2 separate regions of the Homo sapiens genome follow, and region 2 is linked to region 1. The links come from fine-mapping of genetic effects on gene expression. A gene starts in region 1. The other region holds a variant in brackets. All regions are shown on one strand. Distances are from middle to middle. Region 1 holds the start of PTCH1 (patched 1). Region 2 holds the start of LOC105376155 (a long non-coding RNA gene).

Region 1 (10,687 bases):
ATCACATTCTATCTCCTTCAACATGTCAAAGGTCCACTGAAAACTCTTGCTAAGAACACCACAAAATCACGTTTTGTCATCCTCATCCGATGGCAACAAATACAGGTTGGATCAAGTGGTGGATGAGCCGGCCCTCCCTGTGCTCATGCCCTATTCTGTCCAAGAATCTACGGCAGCGGCCCTCCCTGTCCTCATGCCCTATTCTGTCCTAGAATCTACGGCAGCGCCCCTACAGTCTAGCCAATCACATCACTTCCAAACTCCTCAGCTGGGGCCCCTGCTGGTGTCCCGCCCATGCCTAAAATGCCCTCCTTCCCCTACCGTCTCCAGTTCTCTCCCCCCACCCCCTACCACCCTCTTGTAACTTTCACAGCCCATTTCAGCTGTGAACCCAAATGTAGTCCAAATGCATCGAATTCTAATAGTTTTAAATTGTGCAGTGTCGCACACACTTGAGTCTCTTATGGTGCTTAACACAGTGCTAGGGACATCATAGGTGCTCAAGAAACTTGTTGCTAGGAGCATAATAGCTGCTCGATAAAACCCTTCTTTTATCTACCAGTGATACTGAATCGCTGAACTGAGGTAAATTACTCCATGGATTCAATCCAAAGAACGCTTTTGTATTAATTACCAAACTACTTAAGGCAGGAATGTTTTGTCTTAATTATGTAGACTATTATTTTAATTGTCACTTCTCAACTAAATACTCCAACTCCACCCCAGGCTTGCAAAACTCTGCAAGCTGAATCTTCACAAACAAGGAGAGATTAAGGAAATATTCTTCAAGGTCTCCAACAGCATCCTGAAAGGGATCACTGAAGCGATTATGCGCATAACTCTTCAGCTTCCACATGCTGTCCGGAGGAATGCTCCAGGTATTTTGGTTTGAATTATCTACCTAGTCACCTCTACCCTCCCCTACTACCCTCTTGTAAGGTAAGGGATGCCCAAAGTGGTGTTTAGGGTTAAAGTGTTTCCAAATAGCAGGATTTGGAACTTGCCAAAAAGATAAATAAGAAACCAGCGGGGGAAAAAAATTGAAACCTTTGTCACCAAAATAATGTAAAAATGTTTGTCTTCGAAAAAATATATATCTATTTTAAATCTGCAACTGCTTTGCTAAGGTCTCAAGAACCCCAAAACTGAGGAACGTGGATAAAAGACTGGCAGAACCCCTCTGAGAGGTCCCTTCAACCCCGCGTTCTTAAAACATTTCTTTTCTTTGCCTGCAAAATGCAGCCTTCCCCCAGAATAATTCCATGTAAAAAGCCCCCACCCGCGAGGAAACATTAATCTACTTTGCAAACATGCGTTCCAGTCTGTGCCTTACTATTTTTTTTTCCACTCCTTCCACCCCCACCCCGCGTTTTTTGTACCTTGAGACAAATGTTTTTTTCCCTCAGAGTTGAAAGCTGTCCAAAAACAGGACCACACACGCCGCCGCCTCCGCAGCCCCGCGCTGCGCCCGCCCCCGGCCCTCCCCAGCGCGGCGGCCGCGGCCGCCGGGGGCGCGCACACTCCAGCCAGCCGGAGGGGTGGCCTCTGGCTCTCCCCGACTCCTTTTTCTTTGGACGCGGTGGGTGGGGGTGGGGGAGAGAAGAAAGCCGGGCCGCGGAGCGGGGCCGGGAGAGGCCAGCCCCGGGGCGCCTCTCGGGGCGCGGCCCAGGCGGACAGCGGCAGCGGCGGCGGGCCCGGGGCCCCCGGCGCGCAGAGTGGTCCGTCCCGGAGGGGCCCCGCGCCCCCGTCCCGCCCCCGCCGCTCTCTCCCACCACACCTCGGCCGGCGCAGCGCCCCGAGTAGATTACAGCGCGGCCTTTGTCGGGCGGGCCTGGCTCCCGGCCAGGCGCCCAAACAATAAACAATCCCCCGGGTGCGGGCAGGGGGTTTCGCCGGCCGCAGCCAGGCTCTAGGTGTGCGCTGGCGAATATCTCTATCAACCGCGAGGAGGGACCGGGCCGGGGGCGCGGGCGCCGCGGCGGGCGCTCTTACCTTCCACCCACAGCTCCTCCACGTTGGTCTCGAGGTTCGCTGCTTTTAATCCCACCGCGAAGGCCCCAAATATGAGGAGGCCCACAACCAAGAACTTGCCGCAGTTTTTTTGAATGTAACAACCCAGTTTAAATAAGAGTCTCTGAAACTTCGCTCTCAGCCACAGCGGCGCTTTCCGGCCAGTAGCCTTCCCCTGGGGACGAAGCAGAAGGGAGGAGTGAGCGCCGGGGAGTCGCGGCCCGCGCGCCCACGCCCGCTTGCGCGCACCCGCCCGGTGAGCCCCCAACAGCCGTGGGGGCGCGGGTGGCCGCGGCACACGGACTCGCCCTCGAGACTGCAGCCCCGGCGGATCTGAGCGTCATGGGGGGCTCGGTCATAAAGCCGGGCCGCAGCGTGGGAGCTGCACCTCGGGGACATCAGGGCGCCCCCACCCGCGGGATCCCTGAGCGACTTGGGGCACTGGGGCTGCAATACAGAAGAGGAAGCCGAGGTAGAGAGGAGAGAAACCACTCGACACAGACAATATTCACCCCAGAGCTGAGAAGGGAGGGGCTGCGTAATCCCAGCGATGGAGCCCAAGGTTCAGGAGCCAGCAAACCAGTCCTGCTCTGTCCATCACCCTCGGGGACGGGCGCTAGGGGCGAGCGCTCTTTGGAACAACATATTGCGGGTTCCCCCAACTGGACCCCCGCCGAGAATGGTAGTAAGTGGGGATCCACGTGGTGAGCGCGGCCGCCGGAGTTCACTCCCGACGCATTTCCATAGCGTGGGGAGAGGCTGTGTGAGCTGAATTAGGAAGTGGGGCAGCCAGCTGCAACTTACGACAATATTTGTGATCGGAAGAGGGCAGCCACATGGATCTTTCCCTCCTCTCCCTTCCTTTCTGGTTAAACGTAAAAAACAGCCGAGTGCAAAGGGAAGGGCTCAGGCCGGCGCAGGCTGCTCCCCGGCGCGGCATTTCCCCGGCGCTGGCCGCGGCCCCGGCGGGCCCCCGTCTGGGTGCTCGCCTTCCCTGGATTCCACACATTTCAGCGAGCCTCGTAAACACAATGAACCCGGCAGCTCCGCAGACTCGCACCGCGAATTTAAGGTGGCAATTTGTTTACAACTTTTCCTCCCCCGACCAGGCCCTAAGGAGAGGCGGCTCAAAACCTGGAAAACGGGGGGGATATCTTTTTCCGAGAATAATTTTTTAAGGGAGCAGAGATTTCATGCTCAACAAAACCAAAACTGGCTGCCAAAAAAGGAAACCACCTTTATTTCGGCTCCCTCCCCCCTTCCTCTCTCCGCCTCTCTCCACTCCGCCTCCCCCTCCAAGATGTTAAGAAATGTGGCAGCCGTACAGGAGTTTAGGCTGCAAATAGGGGCAGGGGCGCAGGAGGAAGAAGTTCAGGGCAGGGGGCACGGGGCAGGACAGTGCCGCGGCCGCCCTTGAGGTGGTCCGCCGTGGACGGCTTTCCAGTGCTCCGGAAAAGGCACACCAGGGAGGGCGTGTGTATACACACACACACACGCACACACACACACCTCCACCCCCTGCGGACCTCAGACAGCCCTTTCCTCCCAGGACCAGAGGGAGGGTTTGAATTTTTCAATCCCCATTTGTCTGCTGCTTTTCCTGGAGAGGTGTGAGTGAGTGTGTGTGTGTGTGTGAGAGAGAGAGGAAGAGAGTGTGTGTGTTTGTGTGTGGCGGGGGCGATCCCAAAGAGTTAGAGGAGGGAAGAGAAAGTGGGAGGAGAGAGTCTGAAATGCACCTTGGAAATCTGCTCCAGAGCGAAGGCGGCGTCGCAGTAGCTGGGCCGGTGCAGATAGTCCCGGTCCGGCGCGGCAGCACGGCGCAGCCCCCCCGTCCGTCTGCGCCTCCCGCCTCCAGCCGGCCGTCCCGGGGCACCGATACAGCCGCTGCCGCCGCCGCCGCGGTCCTGGGGCTCGGCGGCGTTACCAGCCGAGGCCATGTTGCCGCCGCCGCCGCCGCCGCCGCGGGGACGGAGGCTTCCCGGGCGGCCCGGCGCGCTGCTGCCGCTGCTGCGGGCTCCTGGCGCGCCTGGGCGCTCGGCTTGCGAGGACGCTGCTGGCCGCAGGCTGCTCGGGCTCGGGCTCCGGTTGACAGACCAGCCGCTGCTGCTGCTCACACGGCGGGCGCTGCTGCCGCTGCGGCCGCGGCCGCTGCCGGGGAGTCAGACCCTGCGCCTTCCATTGCCACATTGCGCGGGGGTCCCGAGGTCTCTGCGGCCGCCGCTGCCCACATCCAGTTCGCGGAAGAGCGAGAGCCGGCGCGCCGAGCGAGCCTGTCCTTCGGGCGCTTCCGCGGCACTCCTTGCGGTCCCCAACTCCCCCTACCCGCCCCCCGCCCCGCGCCGCGACCCCTTCACTGCAGAAAGAGCCAGCGAATCCCCGCTGCTCCCGCCGGCCGCGCTGGCTCTCTCGGCGCCTCCCGGGTCGCCCGAGCGGCCGCGGAGGGCAAGCGCAGAGCCGCCGCCGCCGCGGGGTCCGAGGGTGCCCGGCGGGTCTCAGCGCTGCCGGGCCCGGGCAGCCGCAGCTGCCGCTGCTCCCGCGGTGGCTGCTGCTGGCGGTGGCGGCTCCAGGAGCTGCTGCTCGGGCTGCTCGGGCTCTGGCTGCTGGGTTCGCGGTGGCTGCTCGGTCCCGGACTCTGCTTTCTTGTGCTCCTCGGCAACCCGCTGGACCATTCTGTCCCCGTGCAGCGCGCCTCTCTCGCTCCCGGGACCTGGGGACTCCGCTCTGTGTGTGTGCAGCGGGCAGCGGCCGCAGCAGCTCCTTGATTCAATAGATGAGATGGAAGAAGAAAAAAAAGAACTCTCTCCATTTGGAGAAAGAAGAGGAGGAGGGGAGGGGAGGGGGTGGAGGGGGAGAGAGCGAGCGAAAGAGAAAAAGGCTGGAGCTCCCGCCCCCGGGGCTGTCAGATGGCTTGGGTTTCTGCGACGCGATTGGCTCGCGGAGGGCAGAAATTACTCAGCAAACATGACTATTATTAGCTGCTTAGCAACAGCTCACCAAAGTAGAGAGACCACCCAGGTAGGCAACCCAGTGTGTGCATCCTCGGCTTCGGGGCAGCCTCTGAGAGCGCCAACCTTCTCGCATGCAATACTTCCATTAAGGAATGCTCCCCCTCCTTTCTCTCTTATTCCTTTTCTTTTCAACAGTGTCTTCTTTTTGTGGGATGCCTTTGCGCGCACACACGCGCGCGCACGCACACACACGAACATTTGCCTCGCGGTAGACACGGGGGGAAATGTAATATTTTTTTAAGCGCTTAAACAATTTCTGAAATTCCTCAAAGAAAAGCCTTTCAGAGGCACCTTGGCCTCAAGCTGCAGCAAATACTGGGAGGTCCGGCTCGCATTCCCAGGCCTGCACCAATAATGACAGCGTGCTGGATAGTGCGCCAGTGTGTGCCAGATTTTTTTTTCCTCTTCTCTTTTCTTTTATAACTAAAGGGAAGACTTAGGCTCTTGCAGGGAACAACGCCTCGCATTAAGATAAACAGAATGGAAAGTTAAAGAGGAAAGCAAGGACGTTGGGAAAAGCCATCTTTCTTAAAATCCGTCTGCCCCCCAGCCGCTTTCTCCCCCCAACTTAAAAAAAAAAAAAACACAGTCTTGGTTTGAAGGAGTCAGTGTTCTATAAACGTGGAATCCAGACACCGAAGCAGTCTTGTAGAGGCAGAGGCGTTTTTATTTGAATCTCGAATGTGACATAAGTAAAAGAGAAACAACAGAATCTTTTTTTACAACTTAGAGAAACGGAATTGTTTCCTTGAGAGAGTAAAGTTTTCCTGATTATTTTGGGTTCATTTGTACACCCCTTTTTATTAACCAGATGTTTATATAGTCAGTATTTTTTTTTACAAAACTCGGTATGCATGTTATATTTAATAATAGTATGACGTAGGAGATTATAAATGCCCCGATGCTGGATTCATTGAAAACAAACTGTGCGCGGATCGCGAGGATTCGTCCCGACACCGCGTCCAGTGTCACCAAGGCATCCCGGGGATTCGCTTCCCGCGGAGGGGGAAAACACGCGACCCTTTGAGGTGGATTCTGGAGCCAGACACGTCTACACAACTAGGCTTTTTATTTAAAAAAATTTTTGTTTTCGGAAAGTGGAATGTGTTTTTCTTACGTTTCCAAGTTATTACGTTCCTCCCTGCGGTAGGAACCCGACCCGCAAACCCTTGATTTGCTTCACTTTATTTTTTTTTTTAAACGGGGTTGAACTGCAGAGGGACTGGCAGTAGCGAGAAGTCTAGTGAAGTCGTGAAATGGGGCGGTGTGGCTTTAAGATGCGCACGGTGTATGTTCATTGAAAAAAAAAGAAGAAAGAAAGGAAAGGAAAGAAAGAAACCCAGATGGAGGGAAAGGGGGAGGAGCAGGGAGAAGGCGGAGCTCCGGTGGCCACGTGACCCCGCGCCAGGAGGCCCGGTGCGCGCGCGCGCCCGGCTCCCGGACTCCCCGCGCCCGCGCGGCCGGGGCAGAGTAGGTAGGGAGGCGGATGCGCCGGGCCGGCTCCGGGCCTCCAGCGCGGTCTCCCGAGAGCCCAGGCGAGGCGCGCGCCCAGCCGGCGCGGACGGACGTGCCGGACGCGCCGTAGTACATTCCTGAAGGCGGACCGGCCCCCTTACGCTGCCCAATGCCCGCGCCGCCTCCCCGCGACCGGCCAATGGTCGCGCTCACGAGTCCCTGCCCATTCAGCGGCCCCGCGCTGGCTGCCCGGGCGCGCTGGGGGCTGCGGCGGGGCGCGCCGGCCACCGGGGCGGTCCACGCGGCTCCCGCAGGGGGCCCGTCCGCCGGCTCTCCCCGCCCCCTTCCTTCCTCCCCGGCGGTTTCCCCTCCCCGCTTCCTTCCTTCGGCCTGCGCCTTCTCCTTCCTCCCTCGCCCCGCTCCCTCCCTCAATCTCCCCTCCCCCACCAGCCTGGCCACCTTCCCTCCAGCCTCTCCTCCTCCCCGGCTTCAGGGGGAGGCCCTTCCCCCGACCCCCTAACCCGCAAACCGTATGCGGTGCCGGGGTCAGGGCGGGATGTCCCGAGGAAGAGAGGGAGACGGGGTGGAGGTGTTTGGGGGCGTTCGCGGGATCCGGAGGGGGACCTGAGCACCGGGCCAGCGCGGAAATTCAAAACTCAGACCGCTTAAGGAGCACGTGATTTTGTGAGTGCCTCAGGGAAGGGCTGCGGAAACTCGGAAAGCAGGCGGGCAGCATGCGAGGAAAATGACACTGAGTTGATAAAGAGCTCAGACGGCTCCACACATTGCCAGTTTCATCTTTGAGTACGATCCTGATGTTTATTAGGTTTGATAAATAGCACAAAACAGGAAAAGAGGTTTACTATTCTAGCTTTTCTTACTGAATGGTTATGCCGACACTTCAAGTCGAACCATTGTGTGTTTGCTTCTGGAAATTGCTTTTTAAAAACTGGGGGAGGGGGGTAGTACCCCTAGTTTTGCATGTTAGCCTTTTTATATTTCAAGCTTGCTGGAGGGCAAGGAACCATATAGCCAAAGACACGTTGCTATGTTTGTCTTTTCAAACTTCTCCACCACGTTTTGGCCCAAAACTATTAGTGTTTCGTCTCAATCTTTTACTAGAGGGATTTCAGTATAGCTTGTTTGGAAGAAGGAATTCTGGAAGGAAATGGTAAGCTGTGTGCCCGTAATGGATCCGCCTCACTCTCCGCACGCGGCTGCATGTCCTCTGGTTCCGGCGGCTGCCACATGCACGTCATTTCAGTGGCAAAGCCTCTTCCACTCAGGCCCATATCCCTTAGTTTGACTTAATTCCTAAACGTTTTGAACATTGATCCCCGGAGCTTTCAGTGCCCTGAGCCCCCTCGCCCGCTGTTTGATGGGTTAACTTTTCAGCATCTCAGACAATGGTCCCGGCCTGTAAATTCTACCCGTGGGTTCCAGGACGCACTCCGGAGCCTCGGCTCTAACGAGCGCTATCTTAATCTCCCCACCCCCCACCCGCCGCTTCCCCTGTGGTCTGCTTTTTTCATACTTAGAGATGAATTACTTTGAGGATCTAATTGGCCTTGTTTCTGTAACGTTTTAAGAAAGGGAAGAGGAGCCAGTGTAAAAGCCTGCTCGACTTGGGTGGTCAGGGCTGAGGCTGCCCCCAATTTGCCTCATTGCTGATGCATGCGAGTGCGACATTCCCAGCGATAATGTTGTTCCTAATCAATCTGCCCTTATTTACATTTGTAAGCATTGTCGGCTTTAATATGCATGCCCTGTGCAGGGGACTGCTGTGCCACACCGGGTTTGTTAACTTCAACTAACCACAAGGATTCCACAGATCTGAGATGCAGACTGGGGCAGCCAGACCTGCTAAGGTGTCCTCCGGGAAGACAGTCCCTTTAAATGGCCCTTCTGCCTCTGGCACCCCTTGTGACAGTTACCAAATAAAAATAAGTGAGAACTTGGGGCCTTATCAGCCAGCAGGAGTTGCCAGCCTTTATGAAGCAACAGCTGAGTGTTCCATTTCCCCTTTCCAAGTAAAGTTCATCTCAATGCATAAATTGTCATTTTGGTCTCCCAGTCATGATCCAAGACTTCTCATTGGAGTGTGTAGTTTTCAAAGCAGATGCCTTAAGCTCTCCGGATTCCCTCACATCTCCTCCCTTCTCTGTTCCAATACTACAAATATCCATGGCCACACCACACACATTTCAAAAATGACATCAGATTATCCAAATGATGACAATGAAATAAAACATCTGCCCTTTGTGTTGGGATGTTCCAATGGTAAGCAATTGTGGAAGCCAGACTTGGTGGAGTTATGAAAAACCACAGTGAGATTTAACTTTTCACTGGTTTCTCAGATCAAACCAAATGAGTCTTTAAAATCCAATGTAATTTGGCAAGTTTTGCAGAGTATAAATGAATAAAGGGGTTAATGTATTCCAGTAATTTGACCCTGGGGCCATTTATAATTTTGTCTACTGAGTTTAATACTCTTCCAGAAATACAAGGAATTGCAAACATGATTTTAAGTCCTACAGTATTTTTGTTGAGAGGGTCGGATGGAGAGAGGAATTGGGGATTTGATGCAATATTCTTTTACTGCATGGGGAGCCCAGGATACAGGATGTGAGTGATGGTCAAGGCAGGGCTTCAGCAGTTCCAAGCAGGTACCTTGAATATGAGTTGAGTCGACTCAACTCAAGCCAATGTGCCACCATCCACCACATTTTCTTGGCTCCCTAAGAATGCCTTACTATTTTCTCATTGGCAGCTTTTGTATATTCTTAAAAGGTGATGGTAGAAAATGAGTCTAAAAGGTTTCAGGGAAGTCGGGGACGGGGTGGGGGGAGATTCAGCAGCTACAAAATTTAAAACTACTGGGCTTGACTCCCCTCCCCTACTCCCTTCCACCTTCTGTTTCCTCCCCTTATTTACCCCCTCCCCAGGCTGGAGGAAAGGGAACAGCTCTAGCCAACTTGTCAAAATAATGCTGCTAATTACCCCTGATCTCCTTTAATGGGAAGCTGCTCCTAACTCCACAAAGGAGTAAATGAGGGGTCTACAGCACAAACCCGGGAGCACTGGCATTTTTTGAGCTTACAGTGAGCTGGGGGTGGGGAAAGCGGCAGAGGGGAGTGTCCTGAGAAGGTCCCAGAAATCTCCACATTGATTACTCCAGGTCTAAATACTAGCTTGAAAGGGGAATTAGACTTTATGTATTGCCAAAAGCTATTGGTATTCTCTTGCTAAGCATGTCACCAACTGCTGAATGTTCAGAGCCTACTATGAACTTGAAAGAAAACAGAGCATTGACCCCTGCATTGATCCCTCTCTCTCCAAATATATTCTTACCCACATTGCTTTCCTCTCATGGATAGAGATGTATTCCTACAACACCCAGACTTTGAACATGTTTTGCATCCTTCCCTCTCCTCGCCTCTCCCTGTCTAATATATCTCTATCAAGCTTTGCGTTTGCTAGGAGGCACACCATTCATTTCAGTGATCTCTGCTATTGGGTCCTGCATGAAAAAGAAGCTGAGCAACATGATCCCTTTGACCCACTGCTGGAGCAACAAATTTATCAGAAATATAGGCATGAGAAATGAAAGGGAAGTAAAACAATTCCAGCTTATTGTGTGTCTTTCTTTCATACTGCTAATCCGGTTTACACATCACGCCTACACGTCTCAATAGGGCATTATACACTGTGGCAGAGGCTGGAGAAAATAAAAGGTGTGTGTGTGTGTGTGTGTGTGTGTGAGAGAGAGAGAGGAATGAGGATAAAAACGGGAGACATATTTTAATCCACATTGATTAACCTCATCAGTTTATCTATCTGTAGAAAGTTGAAGATAATTTTGTAAAACAGCCTTTTTCTTTTCAGAAAATAATTCCAAATGGTTCTAAGTTTTGTTCAAATAGCTTCAAAGATTATGACTACTTTATAACCAGAAATTAGATACACCACTCACAGTGAGTTTGAAATGAAGCTAATACCCCAAATTGAGAATGGCGGGGCCTATTGATGTCTACCTTGATTCAACATTTTAATTGAAACAGATCATGGACTCAAAGGCATTTTATAGCCTTGTGGAAGGAAGCTGGGTGACAACTGGAACACACATAAACTCACAATCGAAAGCCCCTTGTTTTACAACTTGGGCACTCCATGCACCTGAGGCAACAATTTATCCGGAGTACCACCCAGAAATT
Region 2 (10,687 bases), 140 kb before region 1:
GCCAACATGGCGAAACTCCTGTCTCTACTAAAAATACAAAAAATTAGCTGGGCATAGTGGTGGGTGCCTGTAATCCCAGCTACTTGGGAGGCTGAGGCGGGACAATCGCTTGAACCCAGGAGACAGAGGTTGCAGTGAGCTGAGATCGCGCCACTGCACTCCAGCCTGGGTGACAGAGTGAGACTCCCTCTTCATAAAAAAAAGAGTGTCTTTCTATTTATCTAGGTTCTCTTAAATGAGTCTGATGATAAATGCCATATGTATGTAGCATACGTTGTTAACTGTTTATTCATTTTTGCATCCTCTAGAAGGAAATGGCTTGCTTACGTCTATATAGCACCCTATGGAAGGACGGAAAGCAAACAGTAATTGACAAATCCAGCCATGAATGCAATAAATTCAACTCCAAGGTAAGCTGAGAGACTTAGACACTTCTTTTTGTAAAGTTCTGAAATAAAAGCCCACACTCCCTAAATCTAGAAAATGATACGCCTTTCTGAGCAATCTGAAGACCGTGTGAACGCACCAGAGCACCTTTCCCCGATGTGTGCTCTTGCAGAACCACAGTGGGCTCTGCGTCTACTGGCCAGGTTGGTTCATCGATGTGGACATGGCCAGGTGAACTTGACGCCCTGTCATTTTCACTGTCACTCACCAAAGGAACATTTGTGTTCAGGGCAGGTGTTCAGGAAGTGCTGGCTGGTTTAGGATTGCAAGGAACTTGCAGCGTTCTCTCTGTTTGTGGGGGTGATCACACTAGGAAGAGTTCACATTCTTTTTTAACCGGGGCTGGCCCTGCATTCCAAATGGAACACAGCCAAGCTCTGGACAACAACAGATGGCTCCGTCTCTGCAAAATGCAAACTTGATCCTGCTCGGAGAATTTATCTTCTGCTAAAATAGTACCCCAAGCAGTAAATAAAGCAAATATTCTGTAGGATTCCTATGTGGGGGGTGCACAGAAAGTTTCTCTGTCAAAGTTGACATTTCAAAAACGTATCTGGACTGGATAAGACACATAGCTGTTGGGTTATTCAGCCCCAGTAATGGATGTACTGTGCTTCAGGGAGACTTTCTAAATGTAACCATGTTAATGGAGCTCATAACTTTACTAGTAGATTAATGAGGATCTGAAAGATAGGGTAAGTCTGATCTGTTACTGGATAATGTGGTGATTAATGTTTGTGATGTAATAAGGAAGCCCTAATTAGAAAACTACAGGGGGAAAACCCCAACAGGCTTTTTCACTTAACCAAAGCTTCCACCATTGAAAGAAATTTTGAAGTGTCATTTAATAAGCTTTATGGACTCAGGATATAAAATCAGAGTAAAGCTTATTACATGTTGAATAGAGTCAGTAACATTACAATCCATTGAGACTTCATATCTTTTCTTATGAAAATTCTTAAATCAGAACAAGTTACTACGAAAATATGATTTGTAGTTATAATAATAAATGGGGCTATGTTTGTGTTCTTTCAATGATATTTTACCTTTTGTTCTTTTAAGAGTATGAGAAACATACACCACCATTTTCAAGAGGACACTAACCTATGATCCAATTTTTCACTCTGCTTAAAACTTTCAATAAATTCATTCAAAGTGCTAATAGGCAAAAACAAAGATTCCCGTTTTTTAAAGTGAATTTTATAACCCTTTTCTTTGAAAAACATTTTGGAATGCCTGATCTTAGTAATAGTTTTCCTTCCCTATATACATAGAATATTTACCTCAAATTACTCTTTTATACTGGAAGAAAATTCTGGAAATAAAAAACTAAAAAAACCTTTAAACTACCTTGCACACATATATACATTGTAAGAGATTTTTCTACATTGGAAATTTATGTATGAAATATGATACAGTCTTTTAAATAATATTGGTGAAATACTTTTTTTGCATCATATTTAGCAGTTTTAGAGGTTAATGACAAGCCGAAGGGATCAGTGACCAAGGCTTTGTCAGCACTGTTAACTTCAACCCATCACTAATTGCTGGAAATGTCTTGGGTCTAGGAGGTTAACTCTTGTACAAGATTAAGGAGAAGGAAACATAAACTCTTACTACTATCTTTATGGGCTGTGTCCTTTAATTTGGAAGGTACAGGGCAATTATCGTTTTGGCCAATAATTAGCTGATCTGCAGACTTGCCTTTCATATGGCTTAAACCATCATTCAGCTCTTTGCCCAACAGTTTTACAATTAAAGATTTTATATTTAAAAGGGAAATACTTTTAAATATTCTATTATATTTAGTAGTAGATAGTAGATAGTCTATTATTTCTATCTACTTTAGTAACTTATGATTTTTATATCCCTTCCCAGAGATGGTTTCATATTTTTTCCTAGAATCTTTATGTGGGGGCTTTTATCTCTTAGAAAAGTCTATTCATTTGTCTATAAGACCACTGGGGTACTCAAAGTGATCTAGGACAAAACAAAGTCTTCCTAAAGTGCAGCAATTTAAGCAAACAACCTTATTTGTCAGGTGCAAGAAAATGCCCTCTGAATCCTCCAATTTCACACTTGTCACCGAGGGCTTTGTATTGGGCAGGGAAAACATCTTAGGTATCTCTGTGGTGTCCATTTTTGTTTTAGCACATAGTAGGCCCTGAACGTGCATATATCAATTTACTGCATAAATGTGAACCAAGTCTCCTTATGGGTATCTTTAATTACAGAAACACTTCTTATTTTTCAAATAATCATGCTATATCAACACAGCTGTTCACAACAGTAATGCTCATAACATATTAATAAGTGAAACAAGAAAGGATGTAAATTATCCATTTTTTAAAAAAAGAAAATATTCTTAAATTATTTGAATTATTAAATAAAGCCACACAACTACAAAGTTGACTTATGCAATTAGGTGTCTCTCTTTTTGAAAAAAACTCCAGGTTCTTTAAAGAGCAGACGAGTTGGGAAGCTTTAGGAAACAAAGCAAAAATCCTCAAAGCAGTCTACTTAGTCTTGCCTTACATCAATCACCCTTTCTTATTAACCTCTCACCCTTAAACCGTGCTGCAAGGAGGTGGGGGCAAGTATGTAGTGGGCTGGGGGTGAGGACAGAGTGATAAAATGTAAATTATGTAGAAGAGGGCTGCAGCTTTAACAAGTGTTTCTGTTTATTCAGAGCCTTCCTCTGAGATGCTCCAAGTGTTTTATAAACGTTATCTCCTTAATCCTCTGGAACAAGTAGGTGGCAACTCTGGCTCTTTACTTGACAGATATTTTATCTATGATTGGAAAAATTAAATGCCAGCAGAAGATCTTAACAGAAAGCAATTGGATGATGACAAAGATTAATTTTAATGCATGCCCTCAAGAACAATTCCAAGCCGTCTACACACTCCCCTCTTGTTTTTCAGCCACATGTTTTAGCCTCTTCCAGCATGCAGCGTGCTCACGTGGTAGGATTCTCAAGAAACCGGTAACAGAGTTGCTTTGAGAGAGGGAAATTTGGCAGTTGGAGGGAGGGACTGAAGGAAAAGGAGACTTTTCACTGTCTATATATATGCTTATATACCTTTTGGATTTACCTATTTAAAAAATAAATTTAAAAACCCTCCCAGAACAAGAGGGCAAAGTCAGCTGGATGATCTACTCACTTCCCTGACGTCCCCTCCAGTCCCCAGGAAACAGTAGCTGGGCTTTAATCTAACTCTTTCTTTGTAATATTCTGAATAGAAATCATTGAAGAAAAATGAGTACACAATTTACAGTCCATATTAAATGTATAACTTGAGGGATTTAATGGAAATGAGAAATGCAGTGTGTTGAAAGGCTCTCTGGATCTTTCTTCCTCTCTGTGGATTTATATATTTACAGATGTTCCTTAACTTACGATGGGGTTAAAGTCATAAAGTCAAAAAATTTTAAAGTCAAAAGAAATCCCAAGTTGAATCGTAAGTCGGGGGCTTTATATACTGCACTTCATTCATCTGGGTGGCTGATAGCATCAAAGAAATTTCAGGTCTATTTACAAACCACCAAAAGTTTTTAAAAGTTTTAAGAAACTTTTAAAAGGAGGTAATTTTCCACTTTTTCCTGATTTCACCCGGTCTTCAACTTCTTATCAATGTTGGTCTTGATTGAATGAAATGGATGTAGGAGTCTTAGGCTGACTAATCATGAAATATACAATTTTAGGGAGAAAAGAAAAGAACTAAATCAGGGTAATTGGTGGTGGTGGGGTGAGAAGCAGACTTGACGACTGTATATACAATTTTGCACCCACCTCCCACGGTTTGACGTTCGTTCCAGTAAATTCCAAGAGTACTTACTATTGTTGCCAGACAGGCCGTGTCTTCAAGCACAGGGTGAAGGAATCCAGGGCACTTTCCCTCTCAGCTTCTGTGGGCTCCAGAGCTGTGGTGACTCCGAAGGGCATACAGAGCAATTCCCTGGGGATCTTGTTAAAATGCAGATTCTGGTTCAGGTCTGTGGGGGGCCCTGGATTCTGCATTTCCAACACATTCCCAGGGGCTGTCCCTGCTGCTCCCACAGGAGCACGCTTTAAGTAGTGAGGATTTAGACAGAGCTTGCATCTGTTATAACTGGTTTCCGCTGCATTTAACTGACTACCAGCCTCCCACAATTAAAAGTTCCTCCCAGGCCAGGTGCAGTGGTTTATGCCTGTAATCCCAGCACTTTGGGAGGCCAAGGCAGGAGGATCACATGAAGTCAAGAGTTTGTGACCAGCCTGACCAACATGGCTAAGCCCTGTCTACAAAAATACAAGAATTAGCCAGGTGTGGTGGCATGCGCCTGTACTCCCAGTACTTTAGGAGGCCGAGGCAGGTGGATCACTGGAGGTCAGGAGTTTGAGACTAGCCTGGCCAACATGCTGAAATCCTGTCTCTACTAAAAATACAAAAATTAGCTGGGAGTGATGGCGGGCGCCTGTAATCCCAGCTACTCAGGAGACTGAGGTAGGAGAATGGCTTGGACCCAGGAAGCAGAGGTTGCAGTGAGCCGAGATCACACCATCGCACTCCAGCCTGGGTGACAGAGCGAGACTCTGCCTTAAATAAATAAATAAATAAAGTTTCTCCGTTTTCATGAATCTAGAAATCTGAAGCTTGGCAGACAGGGAAGAAGGAGTCTTTTCCACAGTGTCTCAGGGATGGTGGAGCTGTCCACTTTTCCTTGCAGATTTATCCACTTTTCTTTGCTTCGTCATCTTTTTTGAGTGATTTTCATTGTCAAGGTCACAATATAGTGGCTGCCCTTCCAGGTATCACGTTCATTTTCCATGAGGATGAAGAGGTCATGAGAGAGAACAAAAGGTATATGCCAAGTGAGTCTCCATCTTTTAATTGGGAAAACAGCAGCCTTCTGGGAAGCCAGACTCCTACTTCTCATTGGCCAGCAGACGTCTACTAACATCTCATCAGCCACATGACTGCAGGAAGCTTCAAGGCAGCTTTGTAAATAAAAATTCTTGGCTGGGCACGGTGGCTTACGCCTGTAATCCCAGCACTTTGGGAGGCCGAGGTGGGCGGATCACAAGGTCAGGAGATCGAGACTGTGCTGGGTAACACGATGAAACCCCGTCTCTACTGAAAATACAAAAAATTAGCCGGGCGTGGTGGCAGGTGCCTGTAGTCCCAGCTACTCGGGAGGCTGAGGCAGGAGAATGGCGTGAACCTGGGAGGCGGAGCTTGCAGTGAGCCGAGATCGCGCCACTGCACTCCAGCCTGCGCGACAGAGCGAGACCCCGCCT[C/CAAAA]AAAAAAAAAAAAAAAAAAAAAAATTCTTTAGCCAAGCATATTGTCACCCTGAACAAAATAATGATTCTGTTAGAAGGAAGGGAAGAATAGACATTAGGTAGGTGTCATAGGTGGAATAATGGCCCCCCAATGATGTTCATGACTAAATCACTGGAACCTGTGATTATGTTATCTTCCACAGCAAAGGCAACTTTACAGATGTGATTAGACGGGAGGATTCTCCTGGGTTACCTGGAGGGCCCACTGTAATCACAAGGCCCCTCACTAGAGGGAGGTGGGCGGGTGAGCGTCTGAGGGGAGATGCGCTCTTAGAAGCAGAGGGCAGAATGGTGTGGGGCTGCGAGCCCAGGAGAGCAGGCGGCATCTAGAGGTGGGGACACAGCTCTCTGGACACTTTTTATTTTAGGTCCACAAGATCCTTTTTGGAATTCTGACTTTCTTTCAGAGCTTTAAAGTAAGTTTGTGTTCTTAAGCCGCTGTGTGGTAATTTGCAATACGAAACTCATGCAGTGCCGCCTGGCGTTGTCTGTCCCAGAGTTAGGAGGAGGTGTGAGGAGACAGGGAGAAGTACCAGGACACCAGCCCTGGGCAGGGCCCAATGCAGACGCACCAGCAGGTGGGCCGCCTCCCGGAGGGGGTAGTGGACGGCAGGAGAGGGGCACACAGCCCAGAGGCGGCAATTGTCTGAACTGTGAACATTCGCTAATTAGGCTGGTTGTTTTATTCGTATTGGCAAAAGGCTTTTTCTTAGATAGGCTCACGGACTGCGAGGGAGCCTCAGTGATCACCCAGGCCAGACAGCTCCTCAGATTTCCCTGGAGGGACTGGAGGCCTGAATCTGAAGAGACTCCCCAGGCGAGACAGTGGGACCTCCCGAAGCTGTTTCAGTGCTTCCCACCACTGCCGGCTGCTTCCTGCTCTGGCGTTCTAGGTCGGGCTGCCAGGACAAATACAGGATGCCCCAAGTAAATGTGATTTTCAGATAAACAACAAATAACTTTTTCAGTATAAGCATTATCTGAGTTTCTTATTGGTTCCGTAACAAATTACAGTGGTGTAAAGCAACACAAATTAATCTAACACTGCTGCAGGTAGCTAGCCCCGGGGTCTCCTGGGGCTCAAATCAGTGTCTAGGAGGGCCATGCTCCTTCCGAAGACTTCAAGGAGAGTCCGTTTCTTTGCCTATTCCCACACTTCTAGAAGACGACTGCATCCTTCAGCTGGTTGGTCCTTCCTCCACCTTCAATTTCTAACTCTGGCTCTCCTGCCTCCCTCCTCTAAGGACTCTGTGGTTACATTTGGACCAGTCACTTCACCCAGGACGACCTGCCCTCTGAAAAGCCTTAACTTAATCACATCCGCAAAATCCTTTTTGCCATGTAAGGGAATATGTTCCAAGTGTTAGGAATATCTGTCCATGGACATCTTTGTTGGCCCCTTTTCTACCTGCCACAAGTGTGTCCTAAATATTGCATGGGACATACTTACACTAAAAAATTATTCATTGTTTTTCTGAAATTCACATTTAACTGGGGATACCATATTTTTATTTGCTAAATGTGGCAATCCTCATTTTTGGAAGTGTAGATAGGGTGTATTCTCTTCTCTATGGCAATTACTCCACCTACAACTTTATCAGTAAACAAAAAAATTGGATTTGGACAGGTGAGCGTCTATTGAAATAAATGCCTTCCTTTTTAGAAAAATTTATATTAATTAGCTTTTTAATATTCTGAACTATATTTTTAGTGAGCAATTTCTATTTAATTAATCTTCAACAGGGAACATAAGAGTAACTGAACACATTACAGCAGTCAGACAGAAAGTACACCAAGTATTTATTTGAAATATTTTGAATTTCTCCACACACCACATGGTCCAGTTCTCTCAACCAGCCCATTAATAAATCTGTTATCCAAAAATGTGGCTCTAAACGTGGCTTAGCGTGGTTGCACTTGATTACTGAGTGTCTGGAATGTCTTTCTCTCTTAACCAAAACACTTCAGGGGCAGAAGAGACACCAGGGAGTGGGACTCCCACAGCTTGGGCTGGGTTCAGAGCTGATGTCTCCCTCGCTAGCTGCTTTCTGAATAACGCCCTGGAGATGTCTCTGTGACACTGGGGCCTCCTCTTGCTGGGCTCTTTACTTCTGTAAACCTCTTCAAGTCTCTCTCTCTTTTTTTTTTTTAGATGGAGTCTCACTCTGTCGCCAGGCTGGAGTGCAGTGGCGCGATATCGGCTCACTGCAACCTCCGCCTCCCGGGTTCAAGTGATTCTCCTGCCTCAGCCTCCTGAGTAGCTGGGACTACAGGCACGTGCCACCACACTCAGCTAATTTTTGTATTTTTAGTAAAGACGAGGTTTCACCATGTTGGCCAGGGTGGTTTCAATCTCTTGACCTCGTGCTCCGCCCGCCTCGGCCTCCCAAAGTGCTGGGATTACAGCCGTGAGCCACCACGCCCAGCCCTCTCTTAATGACAATATTAAAACTGACTACAATTAGCAGTATTCACTGATATGCAAGTACTGTCATGCTTAAGTCCACTTTAAAAAACAAAACTGTCTTAAATAGATTGCTCTGGTGTTAGGAAAAATTATCCAAAACTTAGAAATAAAGCCAAGAGAATGACTGTCTTTTTAAGGCCATACTAAAGCGTTGTCTAACAAGCCTATCTAAAGATTATTTCATTCTCTAGGGATAGAAGGTTGTACTATTATTTTACTCTGCTTGTTATTTTAATTAAAGACTCAGACTCTATGCAAGTAAGTATTAACTTGTAGATTTGTGTGCAGTGGAAATACCAATTATTTCTCTCAGGTAGAAAACCCCAAAAGTTAGGCTTCCATCTCTTTTTGAAACACAACTAGCTACTTGTATGTCTGATCAAGTAATGTTATTCTGAATTCTTTTTTTTAGGTTTTCTTTATTGTTTCTTTTCTTTCTCCTTCCTTCCTTCCTTCTTTCCTTTCCTCCTTCCTTCCTTCTTTTTTAAGAGACAAGGCTTCACTGTCACCCAGGCTGGAATGCAGTGGTGTGATCATAACTCATTGCAGTCTCAAGTAATCAAGCCTCCTGGCCTCAAGTAATCCTCCTATTCAGCCTCCCAAAGTGTTTGGATTACAGGCATGAGCGGCCGTGCCCAGCTTTTTTTTTTTTTTTTTTTTTTTTTGAGACAGGGTCTCACTCTGTCGCCCAGGCTGGAGTGCAGTGGCACAATCTCAGCTCACTGCAACCTCCGACTCCTGGACTCAAATGATCCTCCCACCTCAGCCTCCCAAGTAGCTGGAACTACAGGTGTACGCCACCATGCTCGGCTAATTTTTAAATTTTTTTATAGGGACAGGATCTTTCCATGTTGCCTATGTTGGTCTCAAATTCCTGGGCTCCTCAGATGTTCTTAAAACCAGCTTTGAACTCTTACTGGATGCCTCGTTAATTAGTTGAATAAAATTTGATATGTACTCATCCTATAGTTGTATGACTCTCATACAACTAACTTGTTGAAAATGATGCTTTATCGGTAGCATAAGTCAGCCCGTCTGGTTTATGCTGTGGATTTGCTTTAACAACTTATTTCTTTTTAGATGAGCTAAAGGTTCAAGTTTCTTAGCATGACACTGAGGGTTCTTCACATTCTGGTCCCAAGTGACATCTTTTTTTTTGAGACAGGGTCTCCTGTCGCCCAGGTTGGAGTGCAGTGGTGCAATCTTGGCTCACTGCAACCTCGCCTCCTTGGTTCAAGCTATTCTTCTGCCTCAGCCTCCTGAGTAGCTGGGATTACAGGCACGCACCACCACAGCCTGGTTAATTTTTGTATTTTTATGTTTAGTAGAGATGGGTTTCACCATATTGGTCAGGCTGGTCTTGAACTTCTGACCTCAGGTGATTTGCCCTCCTCGGCCTCCCAAAGTGCTAGGATTACAGGCGTGAGCTACCGCGCCTGGCCTGACATCTCCTCTTCTGTGAAGTCTTCCCCAACCTCCTCTTTCCCAGTCTACACCACACCCTCCTCGGGCAGAGTCAGATATCTCCACATCCTTTGCACTCAGCATCCCAAACATATGTTTGCTGATAAACTGAACTATTTTCCTACTCTTCTGGTTGGCGTGTGACCTGGAGGTTAATTTAAATAATACATTCCATGTCCTCGTCACAGTGATTGCTTCCTGGGTGGGGGGGTCCTATGAGCCACCCTGTTTCCATCAGCGTCTTCTCAGGACATTTATTGCAATGGTGGGACAGAAGTACTCTTTCTTTCCTACTGATGTGGACAAAGCCTGTCACCTGGAATCTGGTGGCAGCTGTCTTTGGCTGGTGAGAGGAGCCACCCTCGGGACGGAGCCAGCACTGGGAAAGCAGCTCTGAGAACTGGGGAGAAATTCCGGCCGTGGTCATGTGGCTATGTTTCTGGAACAGGCCTTAAGATACTCTTGCTTCTAGACTTTTCAAGTCTTGGAGCCAGTAGATCCCTTTGATCACATAAGCCTGTTTGAATTAGATTTTCTATTATTTCCAGCCAGAAGCATCCTAGCTGATACAGATACCTATGTTACTCATTGGTGTCTTCATCAATGCTTCCGGAGTAATTTTGTGTCTGCCTAACTTCTGCCCATAGAAAAACATCTTTGTGATCCCAGAGCCTTGCTCAGTTTCTAGCTCAGTTGGAACTCAATAAATGTTGCCTGAGTTCGTTTTAGGAAAACACTTTTTTGCACTATACTCTTGTTATTTTTACAAGTAATGAAATAAAAACCTACTTTCCTCACCTTTTGCAGATCCCAGCGTCTCCCAAATTCCAAGGCTTGATTACTTTTTCTGACATCTGTGTCATCTCACCTGGAGCCACATGAATCTCTCAGTATCCCTACTCTCCTGCTTCAGCCCCTGCCCACTTCCTGTGGAAGCTTTCCAGGAGGCTATGCCTGGGCAGTTAGCCAGGCTGGCAAGTGGTGGGTTT

The links.
Region 2: its variant is fine-mapped to the expression of PTCH1 in naive CD4 T cells (Schmiedel 2018, PIP 0.95).

What each region holds. Positions count from the first base shown.
Region 1 is chr9:95,504,415-95,515,101 of GRCh38, forward strand. PTCH1 (patched 1) reads right to left here and starts at 4,852. Exons shown (of 24, transcript NM_000264.5): 1 at 3,747-4,852; 2 at 1,993-2,185. The coding sequence starts at 3,947. RefSeq lists silencers at 1,698-1,757, 2,188-2,427, 2,958-3,007, 3,788-4,107, 6,382-6,821 and 2 more and enhancers at 2,533-3,166, 4,752-5,301, 6,255-7,018, 7,019-7,780, 7,646-8,618.
Region 2 is chr9:95,362,579-95,373,265 of GRCh38, forward strand. LOC105376155 (a long non-coding RNA gene) reads right to left here and starts at 4,527. Exons shown (of 2, transcript XR_930133.3): 1 at 4,287-4,527. RefSeq lists a silencer at 4,229-4,523. The variant C/CAAAA (reference allele first, on the strand shown) is at 5,729.